Homo sapiens: one gene and its partner. The protein of the gene in region 2 purifies or fractionates together with the protein of the main gene of each other region. This does not show direct contact. Each region holds a gene or a part of one and is shown on either strand. Other genes may lie near its edges.

Region 1 (4,478 bases), on a different chromosome or scaffold from region 2:
TCAACATTTCAGGAAGGGACTGTAGAAATATGCTGATACTAGGTCGGGCATGGTGGCTCACACCTGTAATCCCAGCACTTTGGGAGACCAAGGCAAGCAGATCATTGAAGCTCAGGAGTTCGAGACCAGCCTGGCCAACATGGTGAAACCCTGTCTCCACTAAAATACAAAAATTAGTTGGGCATGGTGGCACGTGCCTGTAATCTCAGCTACTCAGGAGGCTGAGGCAAGAGGAAAATCCTTTGAACCCTGGAGGCGGAGGTTGCAGTGAGCCAAGATTACGCCACTGCACTCCAGCCTAGGCGACAGAGTGAGATTCCGTCTCAAAAAAAAAAAGAAAAGAAAAGAAATATGCTTATACCATTTGATCTGATGACTCTATTTCTGGAAATTTATTAAACAGTTTATCAGGACATTATCCAATTTGCAAATAAAGACTTATATATAAAGTGTATTATTTACAATAGGAAAAAAATCCCAAATGTCCCACAATCATGGCAATTATACAACTATTAACAATATTTTGAGTTACACAAAAAGTCTAATTGATTGCTTTTATGATATACATAAGCATAAAATAAATCTTGGAAGGACTATGCCAAAATGTGAATTGAGGCTATCATTAGTTAGTAGATTAAGTGTGACCTCCATTTTATAAAAATATTTTTCTGTATTTTTAAATTTTTTCATAACAATGAGAGGTAGGTTTAGTATAAATTAAGGAATTGTAGGCCTCATGATGAGTTGCTTCAAAAGAAATAATTGTCAGGGAGGCAACTTTTGGGCCCTGTAAACAGAATTCACAGCCTACCCTTAAGACTGGCCTTTAATGGAGTTGTTCCAACAGACACAGCACCTAAGGTGGACGGACGCTCCAATAACGAAGATGGCTATAGACAGAGGCTACTGCTACCTTGGCCTCTGGGCTTTCATTTTTCAACCCGCAGAAATAATAATAGAATAACAATTTATCCTCCGCTGAGTTCCTACTATGTGCTAAGCACTTTACCTGCTTAATCTCACTTAATCCTCCCAACACCTCTTCAAGAAAGGTATGATCAATATTATTACCATTTTAGAGATCAAAGAACTGAGGCTTGGAAAGAGGAAATAACTGGCTGAAGCCATCACATCTCATTTGTGTGTTTCCTTGCCTCTCTTCTCTTTTTCTCTTTTCTGCCTTTCATTTGGTCCAGCTCATCAATGCATATCTTGATTTCTGAGCTGAAGACCACAAATCCAGTTTTCCATCTCTCTGAAAAACTTTTCATCTCCCTTTTTTTTTTCCTCAGAGTGAATATACCAGGCCACCTGGAGGCAGGCTTTCCTGAGAGCACCTCCCGCTTCCTTTTCCTGCTGGCTTTTAACTTTTGCCCCGGGGGCCACAGCCAGCTTTCTCACTTGGTAGCAGTGGCCTCTTGTGCCTTTTTCTCCAAGATCACCCAGGTCAGTATGTGTGGTTACTCTCAGCTCCCTGAGGGAGTGAGCAGCCAGAGGGGCATAGCATACTTCTCTCCCTCCAGCTCCTTTCTCCTTGGTCCTAGGCCCTCTACTCTTCAAGCCCTTTTGCTTGCTTCAGCTCCTGCTTCTTGCTCCATCTCCTCCCATCTTTTCTCTCTTCTCCAATTCATTTCCTTGGACTCCATTTCTGCCTTTATACCCTTATCTTTATTATCATTGCCAAAAGCAAATACCAAATTCTTGTATTTGAAAAAAGACTTTGGCCAGGCACGGTGGCTCACGCCTGTAATCCCAGCACTTTGGGAGGCCAAGGCGGGTGGATCACGAGGTCAGGAGTTCGAGGCCAGCCTGGCCAACGTGGTGAAACTCCGTCTCTACTGAAAATACAAAAAATAGCGGGGCATGGTGGTGCGCGCCTGTAGTCCCAGCTACTCCGGAGGCTGAGGCAGAACAATCGCTTGAACCCAGGAGGCTGAGGTTGCATTGAGCCGAGATCATGCCACTGCACTCCAAGCTGGGCAACAGAGCAAGACTGTCTCAAAAATAAATAAATAAATAAATAAAAAGGAGACTTTTTTTTTAGTGCAGTGATTCCAAGATTTGTTCATCGATATGCAACCAACTAATGAGTGTTATGCCTCACAGTTCCCTTCTCCTAAGTTTTAGAGTTAGAGTAGTGGGTGGGAAGGTGATAACCACAGTGTAAACTAAAAATCCATACTGGGGATGGAGGCTGAGAGGAGGTTTCAGGGGCAAATGACCAGAACACTTGCAGCTGGAAAGAACTGTAGAGAGGACTTTGGAAAGCGGAGGGTTGACAGAGCCGGTAGTTGTCTCCTGTCCATTCATCTCCTAGGCTGAAGCTCCTGAGGGGACTCACATCAGTTATCTTGCTGCTCCAGAAGGGTGGGAGATGGCAGTTTTCCCAAGCTCCGGTCTCCCCAGATGTCTGCTCACCCTCATTCTCCTCCAGCTGCCCAAACTGGATTCAGGTAAGTCTCTCTCTCTCTCTGGGCTGCATAGTTGAAATATATCAATAAATGTAAAATAAACAATCCCACTTGGCTCTCCCTGGAGACCTCCACTGGATCCAGACAAACTCAGCTGTCAAAGGAGTAAGAGAGCGCGGGGCACTGCGCTTTGGCGGGAATCTGGTCGGTGTCTGTCCGTAGTTCCCATCTCCACATCCCGTCTGATCCCGCTCGTTTTTCGGCAGCTCCCTTTGACGTGATTGGACCCCCGGAGCCCATCCTGGCCGTTGTGGGTGAGGACGCCGAGCTGCCCTGTCGCCTGTCTCCGAACGCGAGCGCCGAGCACTTGGAGCTACGCTGGTTCCGAAAGAAGGTTTCGCCGGCCGTGCTGGTGCATAGGGACGGGCGCGAGCAGGAAGCCGAGCAGATGCCCGAGTACCGCGGGCGGGCGACGCTGGTCCAGGACGGCATCGCCAAGGGGCGCGTGGCCTTGAGGATCCGTGGCGTCAGAGTCTCTGACGACGGGGAGTACACGTGCTTTTTCAGGGAGGATGGAAGCTACGAAGAAGCCCTGGTGCATCTGAAGGTGGCTGGTGAGTAGACGGGTTTTGACTTTCTCCGACGACTCCCCTGCTGTATACACTTTCGTATGGATCAGTTACTTTGGAAACCATCAGATTCATTCTCAAAATCTCTTTTAGGTTGATGTCGCCGGGGAGGGACGACTATCTGGGCGGGAGGCGAGGGGGGGTAAAAGAATTTACCAAGACAGTTGTAAAGAAAGGCAGATTTACTTTTAAAAGTATGAAAATACTTTTCGAGGAGGCAAAAGGCAGGATCAGCAAAAGAGAAGCTGACTGCCAGGAAACAAAGGCTTGCTGGATAATTTATAGAATAGTTTTTATGCTGTCTGTTGAAGATGGCTTTGTGCAGTATCTATAAGGCAAAGGTTGCAGTGAGCTAACTTGCAGGTGTTTGGTGATAGTTGGACACAGGAAGGATGACTGTGAGTTATTTGCACAGGAGGGCTGTGTACTGGACCATGAAGAAAGGCAGACTTGCAGCTTATCTGCCTTATCTCTTTGTTTTCCCCTGATTAGGACTCCACAGCTAGAAGGTACTGAAGGTCCTACAGTAGGAAATCAGTGAGAAAGGGTTTTGAGTTGAACATGGAGAGAACAGTGCAATGTCTTTATTGTAGAACTTTATTTCAATTATCTCCAGCCCTTTTTCAATAATAGGGTAAGCATTTCTTCATGAAATAATTAAATACATATAAGAGTTATATAACATTCTTTTATACAAGTACACCATAATTTACTTCATCGAGTCCCTGAATTGTACATTTAAATTGTATTTCTCACCATTACACATCTTATGGCTGTGGTGAGCATACCACACACTTTAAGGCTGGCTTATGGATTAGTTTCTAAAGACTGACATCCTAAGATTAGAGAGCATGGCGGTTTGTCACATTCCTGATTCATATAGAAAAGATTCTGTTCTTGTTCCCTTTTTTGCTTCAAGCCAGAATTCAAAGGGAAACAATAAAGAAAATAATAAGCTTTGAGGAGGAAAGTACGCATTGAGGTCTGACTTTCTCAATTCCTAGTGAATGACATCAAGCAAATCTCTTTCTGATTTTTACTGTAAAACTGAGGATGTTTTTATCTAAGATTATTTTTCAAGAATAAAATAGTCTGGGACCAGTGGCCAACTCCTATAATCTCAGCGCTTTGGGAAGCAGAGGCAGGAGGATCTCTTGAGCCAAGAAATTCAAGGTTACAGTAAGCTGATGGTTGCCACTGCACTCCAGCCTGGACAATAGAGTGTGCTGTCAAAAAAAGAAAAAAAAAAAGTGGGATGTGGTGTCTCACGCCTGTAATCCCAGCATTTTGGGAGGCCAAGGCGGGTGACTCACTTTTGATCAGGATATTCAAGACCAGCCTGGCCAACATGGCAAAACCCCATCTCTACTAAAAATACAAAAAGAAATTAGCTGGGTCATACCTGTAATCCCAGCTACTCAAGGAAAATCGCTTGAAC
Region 2 (3,815 bases):
TGAGCCCATTCCAATTGGACAAGCTGCTAAGGACTATTTAAATTTACATATAATGCCAACTCTGCTTGAAGGACTCACAGAGCTTTGTAAGCAAAAACCAGCAGATCCTTTGGTAAGAAATATTTTTATTCACACTTAAGAATATTGTCACCAGGCGTGGTGGCTCATGCCTGTAATCCCAGCACTTTGGGAGGCCAAGGCGGGCGGATCCGAGGTCAGGAGTTTGAGACCAGCCTGACTAACATGGTGAAACCCCGTCTGTACTAAAAATACAAAAATTAGCTGGGCGTGGTGGCATGTGCCTGTAATCCCAGCTACTCAGGAGGCTGAGGCAGGAGAATCACTTGAACCCAGAGGCAGAGGTTGCAGTGAGCCGAGATTGTGCCACTGCACTCCAGCCTGGGTGACAGAGCAAGACTCCATCTCAAAAAAAAAATTTTTTTTTCTATAAATTGTCTGTAGTTTTCACGTTTAAGACATTGTGTCTTTGAAATACTGCGAATATAGCTGGGCGCAGTGGCTCACGCCTATTATCCCAGCACTTTGGGAGGCCGAGGTGGGTGGATCACTAGGTCAGGAGATCAAGACCATCCTGGCTAACACGGTGAAACCCCATCTCTACTAAAAATATAAAAAATTAGCCGGGCGTGGTGGTGGGTGCCTGTAGTCCCAGCTACTTGGGAGGCTGAGGCAGGAGAATGGCGTGAACCCAGGAGGCGGAGCTTGCAGTGAGCCGAGATTGTGCCACTGCACTCCAGCCTGGGCAACAGAGCGAGACTCCATCTCAAAAAATAAATAAGTAAATAAATGAAATACTGCAAATATTGAGAACCTTTTTAAAATAAACATTTCTAGAAGGTATTTCATATACATGTTAGATATGTATAATTATTGATTACTTATTATTTTCTTGCTGTGTTTTATTTATTTATTATTATTATTTTTTGAGACGGAGTCTCACTCTGTTGCCCAGGCTGGAATGCAGAGGCGCAATCTGGGCTCACTGCAACCTCCGCCCCCCAGGTTCAAGTGATTCTCCTGCCTCAGCCTCCTGAGTAGCTGGGATTTACAGGCGAACACCACCACGCCCGGGTAATTTTTGTATTTTTAGTAGAGACAGGGTTTCTTCATGTTGGCCAGGCTGGTCTCGAACTCCTGACCTCAGGTGATCCACCTGCCTTGGCCTCCCAAAGTGCTGGGATTGCAGGTGTGAGCCACCGCGCCCGACCTATCTTTCTTTTTTTTTGTAGCCATGCTAGTAGATAACACAAAATGGTTTCTCACGGTGGTTTTGATCTGCATTTCCCTAATGGCTAATGTTGAACATCTTTTCATGAGCTTCTTGGCCATTTGTATACCTTCTTTGAAGAAATGTCTATTCAAATTGAAGTCCTTTGCCCATTTTTAAACTGGGTTGTCTTTTTGTTGAGTTAAAGTTCTTTGTATTTCTAGATGTTAAACCCTTATTAGATATATGATTTGCAAATATTGTCTTCCATTTTGTAGGTTGTCTTTTCACTTTCTTGATAATGTCCTTTAATGTATAAACATTTTTCATTTGATGAAATCCAATTTATTTATTTTTTCTTTTATTTCTTGTGCTTTTGATGTCATGTCTAAGAATCCATTGTGAAATCCAAATCCAAGGTCATGAAAATTTACCCCTGTGTTTTATGTTTTCTTTTAAGATTTTTTTTCTTTCCTTTTTTTTTTTTTTTTTTTTTTGAGACAGGGTCTTTGTTCCCCATGCTGGAGTCTGGTGGCGCCATCTCGGCTCACTTCAACCTCTGCCTCCTGAGTTCAAGTGATTCTTGTGCACCAGGCTGCCAAGTAGCTGGGACCACAGGAGCACACTACCACACCCAGCTAATTTTTAAAATTTTTTGTAGAGATGGGGTCTCCCTATGTTGCCCAGGCTGGTCTTGAACTCCTGGTCTCAAGTGATCTTCCTACCTCGGCCTCCAAAAGTATTGGGATCACAGGTGTGAGTCACTGGCCTCTTTTAAGATGTTTATTGTTTAAGCTCTTATATTTAGGTCATTGGTCCATTGTGAGTTCATTTTTGTATATGGTGTGGTATAGGGGTCCAACTTTATTCATTTGCATGTGGAAATCCAATTGTCCTAGTACCATCTGTTGAAGAGACTGTTCTTTCTCCAAGTCCAGTGGTACCAATGGGCTTGGTACCATTGTCAAAAATTTGTTGACCATAGATGCGTGGGTTTATTCCTGGATTCTCATTCTTTTTTTAAAATATGAAATGCTTAATAAATTGTGCATCATCCTTGCACAGGAGCCATGCTAATAATCTCTCTGTATCATTCCAGTTTTGGTATATGTGCTGCCGAAGAGAGCACTGGACTCTCAGGTCCATTCTATTGGTCTGCATGTCTGGCATAAGGATGTCATTACCACACTGTGCTGACTACTGTAGCTTTGTAGAAGGTTTTGAAATTGAGAGTACAAATCAGTCCTCCAACTTTGTTCTTTTTCATGATTGTTTTGGCTCCTCAGAGCCCCTTGCAATTTCATATGAATTTGAGGATTGGCTTTCCATTTCTGCAAAAAAACTTGTTGGACATTTGGCAAGAGCTGCACTGAATCTGTAGATTGCTTTGGGAAGTATTGACATCTTAACAATATCAAATCTCCGTATCCATGAAAAATAATGTCTTCTCATTTATTTAGGTATTCTTTAATTTCTTTCAGCAATGTTCTACAGTTCTTAATGTATAAGCCTTTCGCTTCTTGGGTTAAATTTATCCCTTGGCATTTTATTTGTCTTTATGCTACTGTAAATGAAAGTGATTTAAAATTTTTTTTTGGACTGTCATTGCTGATGTATAGAAATACAGTTGATTTTTGTGTATTGTAACCTACATCTTCGCTGAATTTATTAGCTGTAGTGGCTTCCTTGTAAATTCCTTAGGGTTTTCCACATGTAGGTTTATGCCATCTGTGAAAAGAGATAGTTTTACTTCTTTCTTGCCAGTTTGGATCTATTCTTGACAATCTTGCATAATGTAAATCCAAATGTTTCCATTTTTAATGGTCATTTTCTTAAAGTGATTTTGAAAACTGTTTAAGTTTCCAATTGATATAGTATATATTGAAAGGAAATATGTAACTGTTTCTTAACTTAGGTTGTTTTTTTTTTTCCCATAGATTTGGCTAGCTGATTGGCTGCTGAAAAATAATCCTAACAAACCCAAACTTTGTCACCATCCAATTGTAGAAGAACCTTATTAAAAAAAAAATCCTCGAAAGAACAAATCATGAACTATCTTATTATAAAAGGCTGTACTTCTACTGTTTGAAAAAATTATTTCTAGGGTTTAAGTAACTACAAGTAAAATAAATTTATTTCTTAAAAATAAGTGTTAAAGGAATAACTATTCTATGAAGCAGATAACATTAAGGTAAAATATAGGCTTAGAGTATGATTTTAACAATGATGTAACACTAGGTAATGGAAAACTCATGTAAGATGTTGCTAGATGTTTTTGTTTTTCTTAAGTTTGAGAAGTAAGACATAAAGTTTAGTTATACATTTTCCCAAGCACATATCCTATATCTAAATACATAATTAATGCACAGTTGAGACAGTCTAGTTTAAAAGGCTTAGGTCCTTTTGTAGTCCATAAGCATGGTGATTTGGTTTCATGCTCATGTGTCAGATATGCTTCCCTCAAACCTTGTTACAGCATCATCACATTACCTGTTTGATGTAAAAAATAAAAAATAGAAAGGTGTAAGTATATAAGTAATTTTTTGGTACAATGAAAATGGCCAGAACCAGGGGATGATCTTAAACT

What was found.
Region 1: the proteins of NME5 (region 2) and BTN1A1 purify together in Homo sapiens (affinity purification with mass spectrometry; one large-scale study listed by BioGRID and IntAct). This does not show direct contact.

Annotation. Positions count from the first base shown.
Region 1 is NC_000006.12:26,498,913-26,503,390, forward strand, and holds the start of BTN1A1 (butyrophilin subfamily 1 member A1 precursor), read left to right. Parts: upstream 1-1,390; 5' UTR 1,391-1,446; intron 1,447-2,317; 5' UTR 2,318-2,374; coding exon 2,375-2,453; intron 2,454-2,677; coding exon 2,678-3,025; intron 3,026-4,478. UniProt on the Homo sapiens protein: May function in the secretion of milk-fat droplets. May act as a specific membrane-associated receptor for the association of cytoplasmic droplets with the apical plasma membrane.
Region 2 is NC_000005.10:138,115,115-138,118,929, reverse strand, and holds the end of NME5 (nucleoside diphosphate kinase homolog 5), read left to right. Parts: coding exon 1-112; intron 113-2,327; coding exon of another isoform or gene 2,328-2,609; exon of another isoform or gene 2,610-3,165; coding exon 3,166-3,249; 3' UTR 3,250-3,755; downstream 3,756-3,815. UniProt on the Homo sapiens protein: Functions as part of axonemal radial spoke complexes that play an important part in the motility of sperm and cilia. Does not seem to have nucleoside diphosphate kinase (NDPK) activity.